Homo sapiens: one gene and its partners. The protein of the gene in region 4 interacts with the protein of the main gene of each other region in a pairwise test. Each region holds a gene or a part of one and is shown on either strand. Other genes may lie near its edges.

Region 1 (7,870 bases), on a different chromosome or scaffold from region 4:
CACAGGGCTACCCAGGAAGGACAGCAAGAGATGGTGACAGTCAGCAGGGTCCATGTGTCCTCGGGTAAGGAGCCTGTTTGGTTCCCATCTTGATGCCTATCTTGGCCTGGGACCCTCCCTCTGTTGACCTGACGCCATCTCCTTAAACCAAAGCTCTACCTCCAGGAGATATCAGAAGAGGAAATCAGGGAAATAGAAACACCCATGGTCCCAGGGACTTCCCATAGCTGACAGAAGGGGCAGGGAAGGGCTGAGTCCCATGTTTTTGGTAAGTGCTGTCCCGTCAGCCCCCACCTTGATTCTGGTCATGGCCTGGGACCCTCCCACTGCTGACCTAAGTGCAGCCCTCTCAGACCAATGTCTCCCGCTCCCTGAGACCAATGATCCCAGTATAAGAGAGGGGTCTCAGCACATAGTCCTGCACATGCTCTCTGGGGAGACAGCAGGGGCAGAGCAGATTTCTAAGCAGCCCTCTGTGTTCTGGCCAGGAGGAACCCTCAATCCTCCCTCAGGTTTCTCACCTGGACTCTTGGCAGATCCTGGGACCACTGTAGTTGTGGACCATATGGGGCTCTTTCTGTTGACTGGAAGTCGTCCTCTGAGAACATAGTGCTCACCTGCCCAAGATTCCAAAACAGAAGTAAGGGGCCCCACGTCCCATCACCCCATCATGTGGTTGTCCAGGGCTGACAGCAGAGGCTGGACCCTTCGGTTCTGGGGATTCCAAAGTCCTCCTGTGGGTTTTTCATCTTTACTTCTGCCAGGGCCTGTCCTTCCTTGACTCCCAACCCCTGAGATGAGCAGACATATCCCTTTACACCAAGACCTCATCTCCCTGAAGGTTTCCCAACTTTCTGCCTGTGGTACAAGTGACCTTGCCACTTGGGGCCACCCGTGATGAGGTCCCCACACAGCCAAGGACAGGGGACAGAGAGACTCTGTGGGATCCCTTCATTATGGGATGTGGGTATCTCCAGTCCTCACCAAGGGGACACATACACCTTGAGTCCTAAAGATCCTGGGACTCCTCCCTCTGCTGATCAGGTGTGGCTCCACCTGCTGACCTGTCATCACCCCCTTGAAACAAGGTGCTCACCTCCCTGAGCAAGGTGCCACCCCCAACCTCGTGGCAGAAATGTGAGCATGGCACATGCCTCCCCAACTTGGGCCTCCGAGGGATGAAAACAGAGGAAGCAAGGATTGGTGAGGTCCCTTTTTCTTTGGCATGTGGGAGGGTACATTCTTACCTTCAGTCTTCATCAATTTTCCTCTCCTTGACTACTGGCAGATCCTGGACTCCACCCTGTGCTGACCAGGTGTGTATCCCTCTGCTGACCTGAGGACCTGCCTCAGACCAAGGGCCCCACCTCTCTGAGATATGGGAGGCAGAAAGTGAAGGGGCACTACATGGACACCCCTCATGGGATGCCAAAGGCTGACAGATGAAGCAGATTTCAGGGGTGCCTCCTCTCTCTGGGTTTCCTCCAGGTATTCAGATTTACTCCTGACAAGGCCTATCCATGTCTCTCCTGCTGAACTGTGGATGAGTTTTGCAGGCCACGACCACCATCTCCCAGAGAACCCCAACTAGGAAGTGGGGAGCTGCCTCTCTTTCCTAGAGTCCTGCTTGGGGCCTCCAAGGACCGATGGCAGGGGCAGGTTTTCTACCTCAGGGATAATTGGTTGCCTGAGTCCTCCCTCTGGGACTCCTCCCTGGGTTGACCTGAGGCTCCACTCCTCAGACCACAACCCACTCCTTGCTGACACCCCAAAGGCAGAGTGAGGATGCACCACATGTGGCCACCGTGCCTTGGAACTCCAAGGGCCAAGGTCCCTACTGACCTGGAGTCCAAAGTCTCCTGAGTCCTCCCTCTTCTTCTTCCTCTTGATGCTGGCAGGGCTGCACCCCAGACCCCCTCTGCGGAACTGAGTCTCCATCCCTCAGATTCCCAAGGCTGAATGAAAAGGCACCTCAGTTTGAGACGGCGGGACTATGGGGGGGGGCTGTTCTGGGGTGCTGGGTCCCTTCAGTTGTCCCTCAGGCCTTGCTCACCTCCCAGCAGGGACTGAGCCCTGTCTGTGCTCCCCCTAGGTCTTTCTCATGATACCAAGCCCCTTCCCTCTGTCAGCCCAGGATGCGGAAATCAGGATCCACTTGCCTGGCAGCAATGCCAGGAACTTCCCAGGACTGACAGCAGAGAGGGAGCCTTGCTCTGTGGGGCCTCAGCCCTCCCTCGGGGTCCTGACCTTGATGCCTGGCAGAACCTGGGTCCTGCCCCCCCCAACCAGCCCTGCCCTGGTCACACCAAGCTCTGACCCCACAGTCCCCTGAGGCTTAAGCGGCGGGGGGCAGAAGCCGAGGGGGGTGTCAGAGGGGACGGCCCAGCCTGAGAAGTCCATCCCCATGGGGTGATCCAGGGCTGGCAGCAGAGGCGGTGCTGGATTATCTGGGGTCCTCTATCTGGGTAGGGAGCATCCTCAGTCCTCCCTCAGCATCTCATCTTGCCTCCTCACAGAGCCTGGGCCCGCTGCCCTCAGCAGGTCACAAGCCGCCCTTCAGAACCGGGCTATCACTTCTCTCTGACCCCCTAATGTGCAACTCCGCAGTACCAAGCCCGGAGGTCCTTTGCGTTGTCTGCAGGGACAAGGATGGACTTTGTGGCCCCTCTATCAGGATGGGGTGGAACCTCTCCATAATTTCTCAGAGTCCTGATGTTGATGCCTGGAAAGGCCGGGGCCCCACCCTTTATGGAACTGCCTCTGCCCGGGTCACACCATAGACTCGCAGAGTCTCCTTGGGCATTGAGGAGGGGGATTGTCTCAGCCTGATAATTTGGTCCCCTGTTGTTTCAGGGCTGGCTCCAGGGTTGGCGCTGGATTATTTGGGGCCCTCTATCTGGGTAGGAGGACTCCTCAGTCCTCCCTCAGCTCTCACCTTGCCTCCTCATGGAGCCTGGACCCGCTGCCCTCTGCCACTCTCAAGACACCCCTCAGAAAGACGCTTTCGCTTCTCTCAGATCCCAGAGGCGGAAGCCAATGGAGGTCACATCCGGCCCCCACGCCTGGAGCTTCCCTGGATTTACAGCAGGAGCGAACCCGATTCTGCCCGTGTGGGGGCGGGGCGAGGCGAGGCGGGGCGGGGCGAGGCGAGGCGGGGCGGGGCGGGGTGGGGCAGGGGGAAAAGTAGTGGCGAGGGGTGCAGATGTGGTCGAGGGTCATGGGGGTGCCTCAGTCCTCCCTCAGGTTTCTGACCTTGATTCCTTGCAGAGCCTGGAGCTCCGTCCTCTGCCAATGATGTCTGCTCCTCTCGGACCAAGTCTCTGACTCTGAGTCCCCTGAGGTGGCAGTGAGCGGGAGGTGTGAGGTCGGGGGACAACATTGCCAAGGTCTTCCGGGGCTGACAGGAGGGACCGAGCTGGATTCTGTGGCCCCTCTATGTGGGGAGGGTGGACCGTCAGTCCTCACTCAGGAGGGTCCTCCTCTTGGCTACTGGTTCTTTCATGAAGTGATGGGTGGGAGATGCTCTGTTTCTGTCACCTCTGAGCATTGCCCAACTGCACCCCTTGCAGACAATAGCTGCGGATCCCAGGCTAGGTGCTTCCATGTGGCTTCAGTACCCGTGATTGTAGTGACCTCTGGGAGAAGATGCACACCTTCCTACGGGGGCTCCTCCCCAGCCAGATCTAGACTTTGCAAACTTTTGCCCTGAAAGCTTTATTTTTACACTGAAGAGGCTGAGTGGCTGCAAGAAATTTGCGGAAGTCCTGCGTTTAGAATTTATCTAACACTTCATAGTTCATTTTAGTGATTTTCATTTTTTAATTCTCATTCAGTGTCAAAAATCATACTTAACCTAACTGCCTATTTCACTCTAATGGTCAATACTCTAATTTAATCCATTCTTTATCTTCAATTAAAACGATAATTTTTAAAAAGCCAATCTTTATTTACTGACGTGGTTTTAGTGGTTATCAGCACAAATTCCAGCCGTATTCCTTTAATCAACCAGTGTTTCCTCATGTCCTGAAGTTACCCCATGACTACTGGCACCTGTGGTCTGAGACCCTACCCGAGTTTTCCACAGTGAAGTAGGGGCAGAATTTTAAACATTTCTTTCTTCCTATCCACCCCAACTTCCCTGCCACTCTTCCCCGCCAATCACAAGTATTCCTTCAAAATACAATGAAATTCTCAGGGCTCTCTCATGTTTTTTTTGTTTAGATTTCTTTTTTGATATTGTTTGCTTGTTCCTTTATTTATTTATTTTTATTCTTTAGTTTTCCCGGGTTGTTTTGGGGAGTCTAAGATAGAAGCCCAAGACTGAACGCGGTGGTTCACACCTGTAATCCAAACACTTTGGTAGGCCAAGGCAGGAGGATCACTTGAGCCCAGTAGCTCAAGATTAATCTGAACTACATAACAAGACCCCATCTCAAAAAAAAAAGAAAGAAAGAAAAAGAAAAAGAAAAAAGAAATGAAAAATTAGCTGGGTGTGGTGGCGTGTGACTGCAGTCCCAGCTGGTAGGGAGGCTAAGGTGGGAGGATCACTGGAGCCCAGGATGTCAGTGCTGCAGTGAGCTGTGTTCACACCACTGCACTCCAGCCTTGGAAATAGAGTGAGGTCCTGTCTCAAAAAAACAAAACCAAACCAAACAATCAAAAACCAACAGATGCCTGAGCTTGACAGTCATCTTGGCTGGTTAAGGAATTACGTCTGTCAATTTTTGAAAAAATAGAATTGCCATCTTTGCAATATTCTGTTCCCTATCAATGATATCATATACTGCCTTGTTTATTTGGGTGCTCTTTGAACTGGATATATCAGTACTTGTATAGTTGCCTCAGTAAAAATCATACATGCTTTTGTTAGTCTTCTTGTTAGGTAATTTTTGGATATTGTTGCTATTGTGAATGGGGTATTTTCTATGACCTGTTCTTAATAGTTATTGTCTGTTTTGCAAATCTTTTGATTTTGCTTTATTGATCTTCTGTTCGCTATTTTTCACACGTCTCTTATTCATTTGACTATTTCAAGTGTGCATTTTTTTGAATTTTCTAGATAGACTGTTGCATTACCCTACCAAATATCACTCTTTCTTTCCAATACACATACCTCTTATTTATTTTGGTATCCATATCTGTGGCTTTGTATTCCAATACAACTTTGAAAAATAGCAATGATAGCATACATTTATGACCTGTGCCTGACATGAATGCGTCCAACATTTTACAATTAAGTATATTTGCTATCAATTTGATGAAACAAAATTTCCTTCTACTCTTAATTTTCTAGTTATTTTTATCATGGATGATTACTAATTTTTTCAAAATATTTTTCTGTATCCATTAATATGATCATATGTTTTGCCTCTATAATCTTGTTAATATAGGGAATCACACTGAAGGTATATTTTAATGTCAAATTGTATTTTCATTCTTTGGATATATCCCGTTTTTCCATTTAGTACACTGCCCTAATGAATTGGCTATTAATTTATTTAGGATATTTGTTGCTATGTGAGTAACTTTGGTTTAAGTGTTCTTTTCATGGTGAGGTCCTCTTCTGGTATTTGAAACAAAGAACACTAGTCTCAGAAAATGAGTTCCACAGTTGCCCATCTTTTTGTATGGTTTTTAAGAGTTTGCTTAGGATGGCAATGAGTTCTAATTATTTGGTAAAACTGGCCTCTGAAACTTTCTTTTCCTGGATCATTTGTGGGTGGCTTGAACTGAGAATACAGTTTTAGTTTGTAATGTTTGATTAAAGTTTTCTGTTTCTTTATGGACCAATTTGATCTTTTTTTTTTTTTTTCGAGACAGAGTCTCGCTCAGTCGCCCAGGCTGGAGTGCAATGGCACAATCTCAGCTCACTGCAACCTCCTCCTCCCAGGTTCAAGCAATTCTCCTGCCTCAGCCTCCTGAGTAGCTAGGATTTCAGGTGTGCGCTACCACACCCGGCTAATTTTTGTATTTTTAGTAGAGACGGGGTTTCACCATATTGTCCAGACGGGTCTCGAACTCCTGACCTCGTGATCCACCTGTCTCGGCCTTCCAAAGTGCTGGGATTGCAGGCGTGAGCCACTGCGCCGGGCCATTTTTTTTTTTTTATAAAATATAGTTCATTTCACTTAGGATTTCAAATTTAATGGCATGATATTATGATGAAATAACTTTATTAAAGTGTCAGACATGTAAAATAGTATAGTATAATATACCCAATATACTTGATATTCAGCATCAAAAATCTTCAATCCATTACTAATCTGTTTCCAACTATACTTCTACCTACCCCACGTCTCAAATGCTGGAATAATGTAAACCAACTCAGTAACCTTGGATAGAATACTGGATCCAATAAGCCAGTTCATGGTACAGTGCAGCTGACCTGGCTCTGAGACAGCCTATGGCTCAGAGAAAAGGGTCTGGCTTCAATAGACCAGCCTCCCTAGACCCCTACCTCCTACTCTCTGTTCCAGGGTCCTGAGGTACTGCACGCCTTTGTTCTCTTCTAGACACATGCTCCTATAATACTGCTAGCTAATACTGCTTTCCAGACACCCTTGGGTCTCTCTCCAAATATCTTCTCTGTGAGGCCTTCTATGAATAACCTTTCTTTTTCTTCATAGAATTTGTGTCTTTATTATTTATTTTTGTAATTTCACTTTCATTTTAGATTCAGGGGGTACGTGTGCAACTTTGTTACATGGGTATATTGTGAGATGCTGAGATTTGTGATATTATTGATCCCGTCACTCAAGTAGTGAGCATAGTACCCAATAGTTGGATCCTGACCTTTCATCATATACAAAAATTAATTCGACATGGATTAAAGATTGAAATGTAAGACCTCAAACTACAAGAATCCTAGAAGAAAACCTAGGAAACACCATTCTGGATATCACCCTCGGGAAATAATTTATGACTATGTTCTCAAAAGCTATTGCAACTAAAACAAAAATTGACAAGTTAACCTAATTAAACTCAAAAGCTTCTGCTCAGCAAAAGAAACTATCCACAGAGTAAGCAGACAACCTGCAGAATGGAAGAAAATATTCCCCAACTACGCATCTGACAAAGGTCTAATATTCAGAATCTATAAGGTGCTTAAACAATTGAACAAACAAAAACAAATAACCTCATTAAAAAGTGAATACCCTTTCTAAAATTGCAATCCTCCCTCTTAACTCATCCCAAACACTTATTCAGTTCTCTAGATTCAATTTGTTTCCATAGTATTTATCACCATGTCAACCAAAATTAAGACTGGTTAGGCAAAAATAAGAGGATAAATGTTTATTGGAAGCCAAATGTGAGGACTGACCTGGGAGGAGAAACCAACAAAGTTGGGAGTGTTCTGGAGAGTCTTACAAGTTGGAAGGGTTTTATGAGAGTTTAGAACAAGAGAGAACTTTTTATATGGCAGTTGTCGTTTTTTATTAGAGGATACAATACGGAGGTTAGAATCATTGTACCAAATTGCAACATACAGACTAAAATGTCCATGTGCAAAACAACCAGTAAAATTTCATGATTTAAAAATAAATCAGCAAACTTTTCAATGTTGGTACATTACATATTAATCCATATGTAAACAATTTGTGGAATGCAGGATAAGACACTTTACTGAGGGACAGGATGGCAACAGAAATCACAAGACCTCCCCCAGGTGAGTTCATTTGGAAGCCTACCAAAGGTGATTTGGAAGTTAACCATTAAATCTACTGCACCTTTAAGTTTGTTTCATGATTTATTGTGTGCCTACCCTTTACCTCACTAGAATGTAAGTTCCACCTAGGGAGGAAATGTGTTCAATATTGTATCCTCAGAGCCCAGGACAGTGCCTGGCACACAATACATGCTCAGTATTCAT
Region 2 (4,609 bases), on a different chromosome or scaffold from region 4:
AAAAAAAAAACAAAAAAAAAAAAACCTAGCCAGGCATAGTGGTGCATGCTTGTAGTCCTAGCTACTCGGGAGGCTGAGGCAAGAGGATGGCTTGAACTCAGGAGTTTGAGGCTGCAGTGAGCTATGAACACACCACTGCACTCTAGCCTGAGTGAGACAGCAAGAGACCCTGTCTCTTAAAAAACAAACAAACAAACAAAAAACTTCCAGGGAAAAAAGCAAGGCTCAGAAATGTCCTACCCTGCATGCTCTTGTCCAAGCATAAAGGCGGACACTGTGGGTGCAGAAGGTGGATATTATGTATCTTGTCAGTATACAAACACTATTAAACAATAATCAGGGACACAGGAAAAAGTTTGTGAGTTCCTTTCCCTTGTTCAGTGGTTAATGCATACTAAGTTGGTTTAATTTAAAAAAAAAAAAGAGGTTTAACAGTATAAGGGAAACCACCAGAAGTACAAAAGCCACAGTATCACCATCAAAACCAGAAAGCCTGAGGATGAAGAAGGAAAGATGTGTATATCTGATACAGGTTTCATAATTGATAGTCAAAAGATATCATCCAAATTTATTAGATCACTAGATATTAAAACAAACAAGACAAAAAGGAAGACAAATTCATTAAAAACAGGACATTTCTCCCAGCTATTTGGGAGGCTGTGGTGGGAAGATCAATTGAGCCGGTAGGTAGAGACTTCAGTGAGCCGTGATCCTACTGCACTCTAGTGAGGGCAACAGAGTGAGACCCTGTCTCAAAAACAAAAACAAATGACATTTCTCTTAAAAAATTTTTGTTTCGTTTTTTTGAGACAGAGTCTCATCCCGTCATCCAGGCTGGAGTGCAGTGGCCTGATCTTGGCTCACTGCAACCTCCGCCTCCCGGGTTCAAGCCATTCTCCTGCCTCAGCCACCTGAGTAGCTGGGATTACAGGCCCGCACCACCACACTCGGCTAATTTTTAGTAGAGACAGGGCTTCACCATGTTGGCCAGGCTGGTCTCAAACTCCTGACCTCAACTGATCCACCCACCTCGGCCTCCCAAAGTACTGGGATTACAGGCGTGAGCCACTGTACCCAGCCCAACATTTCTTTTGCTCATGAATCTGCAGACTGGGCAGACTGTTTCTCAGCTCAGCTTATGTTGGCTCCCCTCAGTGTCAACTAGGATTGCTTGAAGGCTGGGGCTGGAAATGTTTAAATCTTATCCACATGTCTGTGCCTGGGCTGGGAAGACTCATGCAGCTGGGGTTGGAGCAGGTGGGCCTCCTGGGTATCCCTCTCTCTACGTGAAACACTGTACGCAGCCTCTCCAGTATGGTGGCTTCAGGGTAGCCAATTAAGATATGGTTTTACAATCTATTAAACTGGTAAATGTGATGCCCAAGGCTGGCAAGGATAGATCTATTGTTGGCAAGGGTAAGCTGACTAAACCACTTGGGAGGGCAATTTGGCAATACACACCAAAATGTTAAATTCCGTTTGCTCTAATAATTCTACTGCTAGGAATTTACCTTTCAGATATAAACAAAAGTGTACCGAAATATTTTGTATGAAAATGTCCACTGCAGCACTGAATATACCAGCAAAAAATCTGAACACTCAAGTGTCCATCAGCAGGGACTATGCAGTGAAACAGTGGTTCAAACCTCACCATCACCCTGCTGATGTAGGACACCTTCAGCTATGGCCTGCACTACTGAAGCACCTCCCAGCTCACGGCTCACACCTGCTGGGGTCCTCTTCTGATCACTTCTCCTGTGCAACCAGTGCAACCTGGACTGCCTTTCACACCCACCCCATCACAATTAAGATCCACCAGGGCGTCCCAAACTCCTACCAAACTCCATGTGCTACGCTCCTCCAACCTGGGCCTGCACTGGGCCCCAGCCTCCCCGCTGGCCTTCCTGCTGCCTCTCCCTCTGCCACTTCTAGCCACAGGGTCTTAGCTCAGACTGTTTCCTCTGCCTGCCTTACTCTATTTCTCCTCTCCTCCTCTTGCCCTCAGAGAAGGCCTCTGGTTTTCTTAACCTGGTCAGGGAAGATTCTACCTCCCCCTACCCTGCCCCTTTCATACTTCTAACAGCTGCCATTTTACTTTGTACATTACTGACATTTGTCTTCCCCCACCGAATCATTGAGTTTTACGATAGCAGAGGCTGTATCTACACCGTCCTGGCACCTTGTAGTACCTAGTACATAACAGACACACAGAAACTACTGGGTGAAGTGGGGGCACACTGCACAGGAAACAATGAGACAGATCTGCACATTCTGACATGGGAAGGCTCCTAAGTGGAAACAGAAGGTACAGGGCGGAGTGAAAGCTTTGCTACCTTTTGCTTAATTAAAGCAATTATCTCATCAAAACAGCTGCTTTATACTGGGCCATTATGGCTATGCAGGACAGTAACCCCATCAAACTGCCCTGAGTACAACAGAAAAAGCCCACAGACAGGGCTTGGTTCAGCCACGGCATGATTCAGGGACTCGTTTATGCCACCAGGGTGTGGCGCTCTCTCCCCACTGTCAGACAGTTCTCTTCTCCAAGGGCGGGGCCTACAACAGCTCCCGCTCCAGGTTCAAGATGCAGGAGGAACAAGAAAAGCCTCTTTCAGGGCCTAGTACCCTAGTACGGTAGATCACACAGGCCTCACCCTGGAGAGGGCATGGCCTGGAGGGTGGGGGGACTGCAGGGCAAATGTCCCATCCAAAGCAGAGAACTGAGAATGCAGAGGGTGTGGTTCTTTCGAGGGAAATGTGAGCAGCTACCAAATTAAGGGGAAACAGATGCTGTGAGGCCAAAACAAACATACATCACCATAAGTACATTTACATAAGTAAATGTACTTTTTTTTGGTGGATGGGCAGGGAGGGGGATGTGGGGGCACAAATTGTTAACAGCAGCTTCCACTGGGACAAGCTACCACCGGCGGCAAGAGAGGGATACACTTTTCACTTTGTACCATTCTTTAACACTGACATTTTCTAACCATGTAATGTGCTACTTTTAATTTATTAAAATCACAATTGAGGGTTTTTCCCAAAGAATTTTAGTTCTTAGAAATGACATCTGTATATAAATGTTCTAACTCTTATTCACAGTAGGCTCTAACATGAACGGCAAAATCAGACATCAACAGTAGCACATCATGTTACTCTATACGAAAGCACAGATTTAGGCACTTTATCAAAGAAAAATGTTTAGAAACAAATGAGGTTATTGAGTCGTCTGTCACACTCTGCAAAGGACTCTGATTCCCTACTTAAATCCTTTAAAACTGTCACATTAAATGGAACATATAACCCCTCGACACCAGCAGTACTCTTTCCTAAATAAGGAAACAAAACAGAACCCCTAACTTTACAGACCACATAAAACCTGACAGACACCAAGAGTTCTCTTACTGATGAGTAAGATTCAAGTCAAAGAAATTCAAAACTACTTAGGATTTCAAGTGACATATTTTCTATTCTCCGCATTTCCTGCATAGATTTTGGATTTACACACCCTGGCTTCCTGGCTACAGACATCTGAGTTCACAAAGCATATTTTACCTTTAACATAATGAAAATGATGTATATGGCATGAAGAGTTTACTCAATTAAGTCAAGAGTTTTAAAGTCTTCTCTGATCAGAATTTGCTATCTGATCAGAGCAGGCCACCCAATCACAGCAGGTGCTTGGAGGGGAGTGGAATCTCAGTAGAGTTGATGACTCACCAAGTGTAAATGGGAAAAAGCAACACAGTCACATTTCCATGTAAGGAGATTTTATAGTAAACATGAATTTGTCAGTGTCCAGTATTAATTAGAAAACATCTGTCTTCTTACTTGAAGCCTATTAAGCAGTAATTCTTTGACCACAAACTGGTCATGTGGCAGACCCTTTCTAGAAGACACTAGAATGTCATCCGGTGTGCAGTTGCCTGAGACCACTCCCACCCCAGGAGCTGGGCAAAGAGCTCTCCACGTCCACCTGTCCCCCCACAGCGCGTCACTGCTGCCCCATCACAGGTCTTCTCTTTTATTCCCAGCTCGATTTTCTTCCTTGGAAGACCGAGATTTCAGATCTCCTTCCTTCTTTTTTTTGCCCTTGTCTTGCTTTGTTTTATTTTTCTCTTTGCTTCCTCCTCCTTTGCCGGGGTACACCTGGCCCTCCAGAGTTACATCAGCACACCTGTCTTGACCGACCAAAAAGTCCTTGATCTCCCAGGCGTAGCTCCCATCGCGAAGCATGAAGATAGCACGGTCTGATCCCACAATGAACCTTGGGCAGAGAGATGCAATCAGTCAGCCAGCACGTACTAGTAAGGTGCTAAGGGGTCAGAGCAATTCTCTGGCACTTATCAGTTTATTTCAAATTCTACATGAATATGGAATGAAAAATTGGATTTTCCAAAGCCTAGCAGCTACTGATATCTCATGTATTAAAATACTAGCTTGCTGAACTATTAAACATCCAGCTCAGATCAAAATAGAAACAGACACTGGATGTTCCTTTGTTGTATAAATGGATGCCCGTGTTAAAAGTGAACATTTGGAAAACCTCCCTAGGACACTGCAGAGGTGGCTCAGGGGCTGCTGCTGGGGAGGTAAAGAGGCAGCTTCG
Region 3 (7,480 bases), on a different chromosome or scaffold from region 4:
AAGTCCCCCCCGTCACTGAACTGAATTGTCAACTCCAACTGTTAGGATTAATTTGGAAGAAATATTTGGAAACACTAACATGTGGCTTAACAGTGTCATATAAAGCACACACGTAGTGAAAGACAAAAGTATGCTAGATGTTGAAATTGTAGGCTCATCAAACACCGTGTATAAAATAGGCAACCAGTGTTCACATTACAAAAGAGAGTCCAGGGTTTTAGAAAGCATACCTGGGTTGGACTTCATGGTCTCAATGATCACATCTGTCATTTCTCGACGGCCGAGATGCTGATGGATAATCGCTACTTTCTCTCCTGGTGACTTGCCTTCTAAACAGGCTACAGCTGAGGCTAGTGTCGTCTTTTTTATCTCCTCATCAGACATTTCCCCGGCTAAAGAACACATGAATGATTAATACAAGGTAATAAAACAAGCTCCTCTCTGTTCTCTATTCCTCTATCATTAGGTTTTCCTTTTCTTTCTCCTGCCTTCCGCCAAGATGATAAGAAGCCTTTGTAGTATCCATCTCACTCAACTCTGGGACCACTGCAGTACACAGCAAAGAGTCAATAAGCAGCCAGGACAATATACTCAGAAATGCAGGGCTGTTCTACTGAAATCATGCACTTTATTTTTATTTTTTGAGACAGAGTCTCACTCTGTCACCCAGGCTGGAGTGCAGTGGTGTGATCTTGGCTCACTGCAACCTCCACCTCCCAGGTTCAAGTGATTCTCCTGCCCCAGCCTCCCGAGTAGCTGGGATTACAGGCACGTGCCACCACGCCCAGCTAATTTTTGTACTTTCAGTAGAGATGGGGCTTCACCATGTTGGACAGGCTGGTCTCGAACTCCTGGCCTCAAAGTGATCCACCCGCCTTGACCTCCCAAAGCGCTGGAATTACAGGTTTGAGCCACTGCGCCTGGCCCAAAATCATGCACTTTAAAGCAAATCGCCAAAGAGGGAGCCTTAGAGAAGATGCAACAGTGATCATGCCCAGATGAGCTAACATTTTAGTAACACCTGATAAAATGAAATTGTGTTCAGCCCAAAATGAAGCTATCAAGTCCATTAAAAAAACAAAATTTCAAAAACTTGTAGGGGTAGTCTTAAACATCCTGGCTTATGCTCATGCCATGAACCAAGCCATGAACATCTGTGATTACTGTCTTAAATCAATGAAACACATGAAAAGGGAAACGGAATTTGGAGACTTAACTGAAATATCCCTAATACATGCTCTGTCAGGGCAGGGACAAGGCCTGTTTTGCCCACCACTGTATTCCCAGCCCTTATACCACAGTGCCGAGCACACAGAGGAAGCCCTCTAAATGTTTGATGAATAAATGACTACATGACTGACCCATGCAGATGTCTATATGCGGCTAATATCAATTTAGCTGACTCTCAGAACTCAGAAGCCACTTTTAGCCTTTGGAAAGGTGCTCATAAGCTATAAAGTCATATTCAATCTTTAATTTGCAGCTTCAAAGGTCACGTCCTCAGGAAGTTCCCAATGACACCATCCCTACCTGCCCCCATCCCTCTCTCCAAACCAAACACATCTTCTTGTAATACTTTCCCAAATTGTTTCTCCTTTCCTTCACAGCACTTACCACAGTTGTAATTCTACACATATTCTGCACTTATTTAATTCATCTGTTTCCTCCATGATACTGCTGGTGCCATTAAAACAGAGACGCTGTCTGATTCAGCACACAAGGAAGGCTCCAGCAGATATGAGCATAAGTTTTTTTTTTGTTTTTTTTTTTGAAATGGACTTTATCTCTTGTCGCCCAGGCTGGAGTGCAGTGCCACAATCTTGGCTCACCGCAACCTCCACCTCCCGGGTTCAAGCGATTCTCCTGCCTCAGCCTCCCCAGTAGCTGGGATTACAGGCACCTGTCACCACGCCCAGCTAATTTTTGTATTTTTAGTACAGACAGGGTTTCACCATGTTGGCCAGGCTGGTCTTGAACTCTCAACCTCAGGTGACCCGCCCGCCTCGGCCTCCCAAAGTGTGAGGATTACAGGCGTGAGCCACCGCGCCCGGCCAAGTATTTCTTGAATGAATGTTAGTTAATTATCTGAGGACCAAGGAACAGAGCCAGAGCTGCATTCCCCACTAAGGAGCTTCCTCACTTGTGTTAATGGTGTAAAAAGCTCAGACTCAAGTCCAGCTCACTGAGTTAGAATCCCAGTTTCACCCATTACAGATAACCTTGGGCAAATCAATTAATCACTAAGCTTCAGTTTCCCAATGTGTAAGAGGTACATGTCACATCCATCTGCCTCTTAGGGCTGTTGCAAAGATAATTAAAGAATACAATACACAAAAGGTGCTTAGTACAGTGCTGGGATATAGGAAGTGTCCAAATTTTAGTTATGACTATGGTTAGGGGGCACTTCAATGGATATCGTTCCAAAAGGGAACAATTTAATTAACCCAGGGACCGTCCAGCGTTGCTGGGGACCCAGTCCCTGCCTTTACGAAGCCCATAGGGAAGCAAGTGAGACAAACACACCACTCGACTATCTCGAGAGGGAGACGCGCCAGGTATAAACTAAATGCCCTCAGACGGCACAGGGAGGGAGGTTCGGGGCAGGGCTTCCCTGAGATAACAAACGGGAAGGCCTCTCAAAGGCGGATGGGAAAGAGAGGGATCCCGATTACCTCTCCGTGTCTTCCTGGGCAACAGCCCTCGCCGCGGGCTTTTCCCGGGCCAGTGCTTTGGGAAGGGAAGCCCTCCGGGCCCAGACCCGGCTACAGGGAATGCGGCGAGGCCGCGGGACTCACCCGCGGCGCTGAAGCCGAAGCCGGCGGGGACAGGCGAGTGTTCCGCGAGCTCCAATCGGATAACAACCAGTGACACACTCATAGGGCAGGCGCTGGCCGGCGCGGGCCCCGGCGGGCTCAGGCGAGGCTGGAAGGCGAGCCGAGAGGCCGAGCGGCCCGGGGCCGGCAGCGCCGCCACCACCTCAATGCAGTTGCCGCCGCCTCAGCAGCAGCAGCTCCTCGAACAGCCCTCGGAGCCACAACAACCTCCACTTCCGCCTCCCGGCCGCCGTCGCTGACCTGCGGTTTACGCATGCGCGCAGGACCGCGCACAGCGATTGGGCGGCGTGGCAGGGGTCACCCACTGCTCTTCCGGACGCAATTTTGAGGAGGTCGGAGCGGAAGGACGTCGTGGAGATTGCTTGCGCTGGGGTGCCACACTTAGGCTGAGCTGCAGGTTTTCGCACAGTCGCGAGTTAACCTCTGCTTGCTCCAGAGGCCTCGTCCTAATCCACCTCGGCTGACGGCGCGGGATCCCTGGCTCCGCGAGGTCTCCGAATTGTCCGAGCTATCTGCTATGCAGAACTTTGCCCCTTTTGTTGTGTTTGACTCCTGTCTCTAACCCTAGTCTGGATGGTTTTGTTTCTGTCCCACTTTACAGATAGGTACAACGAGGCTCAGAGAGGTGAAGTTCCTTCTAAGGGGCCGTAGAGAGTGGAGAGTCGATCGCTGTTCAGATAGCGATCTGGCTGGGCGCGGTGGCTCACGCCTGTAATCCCAGCCCAGAGGCTTAGGCGGGCGAATCACCTCAGGTCAGCAGTTCGAGACCAACCTGGCCAACATGGTGAAACCTCGTCTCTACTGAACATACAAAAAATTAGCCGGGCTTGGTGGCGCGCGTCTGTAGTCCAAGCTACTTGGGAGGCTGAGACAGGAGAATCGCTTGAACCCGGGAGGCGGAGGTTGCAGTGAGTCGAGATAGTGCTAGTGCACTCCCGCCTGGGCAACAAGAGCGAAACTCCGTCTCAAAAAAAAGAGAGAAAAGATGGTGATCTGCTGGTTACGAGCATAGTGCTGCAGTTAGACCGGGGTCCTCCTCCCCACCCTGTCACTTCACAAATGTTTACTGAGAGTCTAGACACCCTTGGGATGCTTGAGATACGTTGGCGTATAAGATAAACACAGTTCCTGTCCGTACTATGAGGTTGACCTACATCAGCAGTTGTGCAGTCTTGAACTAGTATAGTCATTGCATAAAGTTGGCATGATATCATGTCCTCATGCAGTTGTGAGGATGAAATGGAATTATGTATATGGAGATAACATTAGCTTTTCTGAGGCTCAGCATTCTTTCCAGTATGTCAGAGTGGCTTTTGTATGTAGATACTGACACAATCAATGCATATGGGACACATACATGACAGGATGCTACTCTAGGTACATTGTATAATGATACATATGTAAGTACATAGTACATTCTAGATGTGTGTGTGTGTGGACATAGTGCGTTCTAGATGTGTGTGTATCTGGACTATGACATGACCACAAGATACATGCGTATATAGATCTTGTGACTACATCCTATGAAATACGTTTCCATATGCCCTGTTTAAATCAGGGTTTCTCAACTCTGCACTATTAACATTTTGGGTCCTGATTATTCTTTTTTGTTTTTGGCAAGGGGGCGGGGTGTCCTGAGCATTGTAGAGTGTTTAGAAACATCCCTGGCCTGACCCACTAGATGTCAGTAGCACCTCTCCCCAGGTGGTGACAACCAATAATGTCTCTGGACCTTTCCAGATGTCTCCTTGGGGTTAGAAAACATAACCCTGTTGAAGAATCACAGGGTTATGTGAAAGTGCATAAACCATACACACATACTGTATGCATAAAACCTATGAGACCTCTTGTGAACTTTTTTAGTATATTACTATAGTAGATAACATTTCAACATGTGCCAGGTACTAATTTGAGTGTTTCATATACCTTGTGTCATGCAATGGTCACAACAACTTTATGAAACTGGTACTATGTCCCTGTTCTACAGAGGAGTAACCTGAGGCTTGGAGGAAGAGTAACTGGCTCAGGATTTCACAGGTAGTAGTGGCAGAGCTGGAACTGAAATTCAGGCAATCTGAATCCAGAACGAACATTCTTTATCTCTTTACCAAACAAACCTTTTTTTTTTTTTGTATTTTGAGACGGAGTCTCACTCTGTCGCCCAGGCTGGAGTGCAGTGGTGCCATCTCGGCTCACTGCAACCTCGGCTTCCTGGGTTCAAGCTTCCTGCCTCAGTCTCCCAAGTAGCTGGGACTACAGGCACACAGCACTGCACCCAGCTGATTTTTGTATTTTTTTTTAGAGATAGGGTTTCACCATGTTGGTCAGACTTGTCTCGAACTCCTGACCTTGTGATCCGCCCACTTCGGCCTCCCAAAGTGCTGGGATGACAGGCGTGAGCCACCGCGCCCGGCCCCCCCAAAGGCATTTTTCGTCTCTACTAAGCCCTCACACAAAATATACAAGTGTGTAAGTAAATTTCTCTTTCTATCATAAACATTGGCCTTGGCATAGGAACGTTAAGTAAAACTGAAAATGCAAATGAACCTTGACATTTTTAGTTTCAAATATTGCCCCCAAATTCAGCAAATTTCCAATTACTGTCGTTGCATGGTGGTATCCTCAGCAGATGGGTGCAGGACCCCCTGCAGATGCCAAAATCTGTGGATGCTCAAGTTCCTGATATACAATGGTGTAGCATTTGTTTATAACCTATGTACACCCTCCTATATGCTTTAACCCATTTCCCATTTAGAAAAAAAAAGTACTTGACTTGGTGTGGTGGCTCACGCCTGCAATCCCAGCACTTTGGGAGGCCGAGGCCGGTGGATCACTTGAGGTCAGGAGTTCGAGACCAGCCTGGCCAACATGGTTAACACCCGTCTCCACTATAAAAATACAAAAAATTAGCTGGATGTGGTGGCGAGCGCCTGTAGTCTCAGCTACTCGGGAGGCTGAGGCAAGAGAATAGCTTGAACCTGGGAGGCGGTTGCAGTGAGCCGAGATCACACCATTGCACTCCAGCCTGGGCGACAGAGCAAGACTCCGTCTCAAAACAAAACAAAAAAAAGAAAGCAAAAAAAGTGCAGCTCGCTGCCAGCACAGTATTCTCAGGGCAAGCAAGATATGAGTTAAGTAATCCCTAGATTGCTTATAATACTGGCTGGGCACGATGGCTCACGCCTGTAATCCCAGCACTTAGGGAGGCCAAGGTGGGTGGATAATGAGGTCAAGAGATCGAGACCATTCTGGCCAACATGGTGAAATCCTGTCTCCAGTAAAAACACAAAAATTAGCCAGGCGTGGTGGCACGCACCTGTAATCCCAGCTACTCGGGAGGCTGAGGCAGGAGAATCGCTTGAACCCAGGAGGTGGAGGTTGCAGTGAGCTCTGATCATGCCACCGCATTCCAGCCTGGTGACAGAGGGAGACTCCATATCAAAAAATATATATATTTAATATATATATCAAATCATATCCATATCAAAATATATAAATATATATACATGCATATATATGTATGTATACCTAAAACAGTGTAAGTACTGTGTAAATAAATAGTTGTTAACCTGTATTTTTTGTTTGCATTTTTTATTGTTGTGTTGTTATTTTTGTTGGTTTTTGTTTGTTTTTGAGATGGAGTCTCACTCTATAACCCCGGCTGGAATGTGGAGTGCAGTGGTGCAATCTTGGTTCACTGCAACCTCCACTTCCCTGGTTCAAGTGATTCTCATGTCCCAGCCTCCCGAGTATCTGGGATTACAGGTGTGCGCCACCACGCCTGGCTAATTTTTTTTCTGTGTTTTTAGTAGAGACGGGGCTTCACAATGTTGACCAGGTTGGTCTCGAACTCTCGACCTCAGGTGATCCGCCTACATTAGCATCCCAAAGTTCTGGGATTACAGGCGTCAGTTACTGTGCCCTTACTGTGTGTGTTTGTTTTGTTTTGTTTTACTTCAAATATTTTCTTCTTTTTTTTTTTTTGAGATGGAGTCTCACTCTGTTGCCCAGGCTGGAGTCCAGTGGCACCATCTCGGCTCACTGCAAGCTCCGCCTCCCCAGTTCACACCATTCTCCTGCCTCAGCCTCTTGAGTAGCTGGGACTACAGGTGCCCACCACCACGCCCGGCTAATTTTTTGTATTTTTAGTAGAGATGGGGTTTCACCGTGTTAGCCAGGATGGTCTCAATCTCCTGACTTTGTGATCCGCCCGCCTCGGCCTCCCAGAGTGCTGGGATTACAGGCGTGAGCCACTGCACCCGGCCTTACTTCGAATATTTTCTATTGTAGTTGGCTGAATCTGCAGATGTGGAACTCACAAATACAGAGGGCTGACTATAGATGAGAAACACATTATATTCAAGATTTACCACTTAAGAGTCCTTTCTCTAGGTGCTTATAGAGGTTGAGTATCCCTTGTCCCAAATGTTTGGAACCAGAAGTAGTTCAGATTTTGGATTTTGATATATCTGCGTATATATAATGAGATATCTTGGGGTTGGGACCCAAGGCTAAACATGAAATTCACTTATATATATATGTTTCATATATATCTTATACACCTAGCCTGATGGTAATTTTATACAATATTTTAAATAATTTTGTGCATGAAACAAAGTTTGTGTTAAGTACTTACGTGTGGAATT
Region 4 (3,092 bases):
CCTCACAGCCACCAATTTTTTTTTTTTGAGGCGGAGTCTCGCTCTTGTCACCCAGGCTGGAGTGCAGTGGCTTGATCTCAGCTCACTGCAACCTCCGCCTCCTGGGTTCAAGCGATTCTCCTGTCTCAGCCTCCCTAGTAGCTGGGATTACAGGTGCGCACCACCAGGCCCAGCTAATTTTTGTATTTTTAGTAGAGACAGGGTTTCATCATGTTGGCCAGGCTGGTCTCGAACTCCTGACCTCAGGTGATCCGCCTGCTTCCGCCTCCCAAAGTGCCGGGATTACAGGCGTGAGCCACCGCGCCCCGCCTACAACCACCATTTGAAGTGGGTGCTGTCATGCTCCTCATTTTACAGGTTGGAGAGACCAAGGCCAGAGAGGGACAGTGACTTGTCCAAGGCCACACAGCTTGAAACTGGGAAGCTGGAATTTAAATCCCAGCCATCTGGCACCCAAATCCATCCTATTAACTACCAGGATATGCGCTTATAACGTGTCCTAGGGTAAGTGGTTGACATACAGTAGGTGCCTAATACATGATAATTATTGTTATTTTTAATTATAATTCTCCTAGAGGGTGCTTGGAGGGAGGGTGCGTCAGGGGAGAGGGAGGGCCATGGGGCTGTGTCTGCTCTCCGAGGTCCCAGCCAGCATCCAATCAGCTGGCTGGGGCGGGGGACGCTGGGGTCACTAGGGGTCCGCGCTGCTCTTGCTGCGCGGCGGCGGCGTGCGCGGGTCCCAGTCCTTAACCAGGCGCTGCGCCTGCTCGTAGCACACGTGCGGTTGCCGCTGGCGCAGGCGCAGGCGCACCACGTTGCCGTCCACCTCATGCCCGATGTTCTTGCAGTTGAGGCCCCAGCTGAGGTTCTTGTGCGTGGCGAGCAGCTCGTCCAGGTTCTTTTCCAGGTACGTGATGTGGCACTGCAGCTTGTCGGTGCCCTGGATAGGGAGCAGGGCAGACCCGTGAGCCAGAGCAGATGGCTACCTGGCGTGGGAAGGCACACCTGCGCCAGGTGTGTGTGTAAGGAACACAGCTGAGGAGGGGAACACATCTGAATGGGCCAGGTGTGCCTGGAAAAAAAAAAAACCGCGACAGGGCAGGCTGAGGGAGGGGAATGCATCTAGTCAAGATGTGTAGGAAGGATCCTCCTTAGGAAGGGTACTTAATAATAACAGCTCAGGGCCGGACGCGGTGGCTCACACCTGTAATCCCAGCACTTTGGGAGGCCGAGGCGGGCGGATCACCTGAGGTCAGGAGTTCAAGACTAGCCTGGCCAACATAGCAGAACTCTGTCTCTACTAAAAATACAAAAATTAGCCGGGTGTGGTGGCGCGCACCTGTAATCCCAGCTACTCAGGAGGCTGAGGCAGGAGAATCGCTTGAACCCGGGAGGTGAAGGTTGCAGTGAGCCAAGATTGCACCACTGCACTCCAGCCTGGGCGACAGAGCGAGAGTCTGTCTCAAATAATAATAACAATAATAGTTAATAATAACAGCTGGGCAGCTTTAAGGGTATTCTATGCAGGTGCCATGCTACACACCTTTCATGCATGAACTCATCTGTCCTCACCACCACCATTTGAAGTGGGTGCTGACGTGCTCCTCATTTTACAGGTTAGAGAGACTAAGGCCAGAGCTGGACAGTGAGGGTGTGTGTGAGGGGGGAGGACAGGGGTTGAGGGGACTTATTTGAGCCAGTACCCACTGAAGCCCCCGCCAGTACCCACTTCAGTACCCAGTGAAGCCCCCGCCTCCCCACTTCGTGGCAGGAGTTGAAGGACAGGCCGACTTGGGTGAGAGGGGGATCATACCTGGTCCAGATGTGCTTGAGGAAGGAGCCTTACCATTGGCGGGGCTGGGCCTAGAGGGGTACGGGGGAGGGGGTTTACCTGTGCGAGGCGCGCAGCCTCCGGGAGTTGGGTGCCCACGTGTCTCTGGTACATGCGAACCAGGGGTCTGTCCAGCTTTTCTGCGGTCTCCAGGTGAACTTTCGACAGAGGACCCTGGTGGGGTGCGGTGTGCAAGCGCATTGAAACCCAGCCTCCAGCCACCGGCACCCCTGCCTCCACCCCCGAAGGCTCTCACCCCGAACCGTACCTTGATGAGACCGTGGGTGGTGTACAACTCTTGGTTATATTTCGTACACCGGAGGATAGTTCCCCTCATCAGTCCTAACGTCATATTTAATCTTTCCTGGGGGCAGGGAAGCGCAGGGGGATCACGCTGGCTCCCAGTCCGCGTCTCCTCCCCTGTCCCACCCTGGCCCGCAGCCGCAGGTAATGCGCTCACCTTCAGCTCCAAGGTCTCGCTCGCCTTCTGCGCCAGCGAGGCACACACACGGTCGCTTATCTGCAGCTGTTGCTCCCGGACGTCCACCTCGTTCTTTGCCATTTCTACCAAGGTGTCCTTGGACTCGACCAACAACCGCTTGGCTTCGTTTAGCGCCAAGGCGCACGCTGCAAATGCCCAGGATGCGCGTGGGGGTGCCAAGTCCTCCGTTCCCAGAGCCCCTGTCCCTCTCTCTATTCTCAGGTGGTGGTGGGCCCTGGGCGAGGGGGTTTTATTGAGGAACTGGGTGAAAGTCCAGGGGGCGCGGGGGATAGTGTAAGAAGCGTCTTGGGTTGGTTTCCTTAGAAGCAGAGCCTGTAACCTGTAATCCCAGCACTTTGGGAGGCTGAGGCGGGTGGATCACCTGAGGTCAGGAGTTCGAGACCAGCCTGGCCAACATGGTGAAACACCCGCCTCTACTAAAAATACAAAAATTAGCCGGGCGTGGTGGTGGGCGCCTGTAATCCCAGCTGCTCAGGAGGCCGAGGCAGGAGAATCACTTGAACCTGGGAGGCGGAGGTTGCAGTGAGCTGAGATCAGGCCATTGCACTCCAGCCTGGGTGACAGAGCAAGACTCCATCTCAAAGGAAAAAAAAAAAAAGCAGAGCCTGTGAATGACTGAGTCCTCAGCGAGTGTGGGCAGGAGAGTGCAGGGGGAAAAGCTGAGTGACAATGTGTGCTCAGCATGATAGGCTTTCAGTCCTCCCATTGACTCTAGGGCTATTTCCCAGGAAAGGGACAGCTAAGTGGGCGACGGGCTGC

The links.
Region 1: the proteins of TEKTL1 (region 4) and MAGEA11 interact in binary tests that used the Homo sapiens proteins (3 or more experiments, as listed by UniProt).
Region 2: the proteins of TEKTL1 (region 4) and MESD interact in binary tests that used the Homo sapiens proteins (3 or more experiments, as listed by UniProt).
Region 3: the proteins of TEKTL1 (region 4) and BRAP interact in a two-hybrid assay, tested with the Homo sapiens proteins (one study listed by BioGRID and IntAct).

Annotation. Positions count from the first base shown.
Region 1 is NC_000023.11:149,707,228-149,715,097, reverse strand, and holds the start of MAGEA11 (melanoma-associated antigen 11), read right to left. Parts: upstream 3,039-7,870; 5' UTR 2,936-3,038; intron 1,956-2,935; 5' UTR 1,939-1,955; coding exon 1,843-1,938; intron 1,829-1,842; exon of another isoform or gene 1,072-1,828; coding exon of another isoform or gene 1,000-1,071; intron 618-999; coding exon 522-617; intron 1-521. UniProt on the Homo sapiens protein: Acts as androgen receptor coregulator that increases androgen receptor activity by modulating the receptors interdomain interaction. May play a role in embryonal development and tumor transformation or aspects of tumor progression.
Region 2 is NC_000015.10:80,975,211-80,979,819, forward strand, and holds the end of MESD (LRP chaperone MESD precursor), read right to left. Parts: intron 4,268-4,609; coding exon 4,009-4,267; 3' UTR 542-4,008; downstream 1-541. UniProt on the Homo sapiens protein: Chaperone specifically assisting the folding of beta-propeller/EGF modules within the family of low-density lipoprotein receptors (LDLRs).
Region 3 is NC_000012.12:111,682,916-111,690,395, forward strand, and holds the start of BRAP (BRCA1-associated protein), read right to left. Parts: upstream 3,042-7,480; 5' UTR 2,878-3,041; coding exon 2,796-2,877; coding exon of another isoform or gene 2,673-2,795; intron 393-2,672; coding exon 231-392; intron 1-230. UniProt on the Homo sapiens protein: Negatively regulates MAP kinase activation by limiting the formation of Raf/MEK complexes probably by inactivation of the KSR1 scaffold protein.
Region 4 is NC_000019.10:15,020,719-15,023,810, reverse strand, and holds the end of TEKTL1 (tektin-like protein 1), read right to left. Parts: intron 2,459-3,092; coding exon 2,292-2,458; intron 2,196-2,291; coding exon 2,100-2,195; intron 2,006-2,099; coding exon 1,892-2,005; intron 941-1,891; coding exon 692-940; 3' UTR 535-691; downstream 1-534. UniProt on the Homo sapiens protein: Microtubule inner protein (MIP) part of the dynein-decorated doublet microtubules (DMTs) in sperm flagellar axoneme, which is required for motile flagellum beating.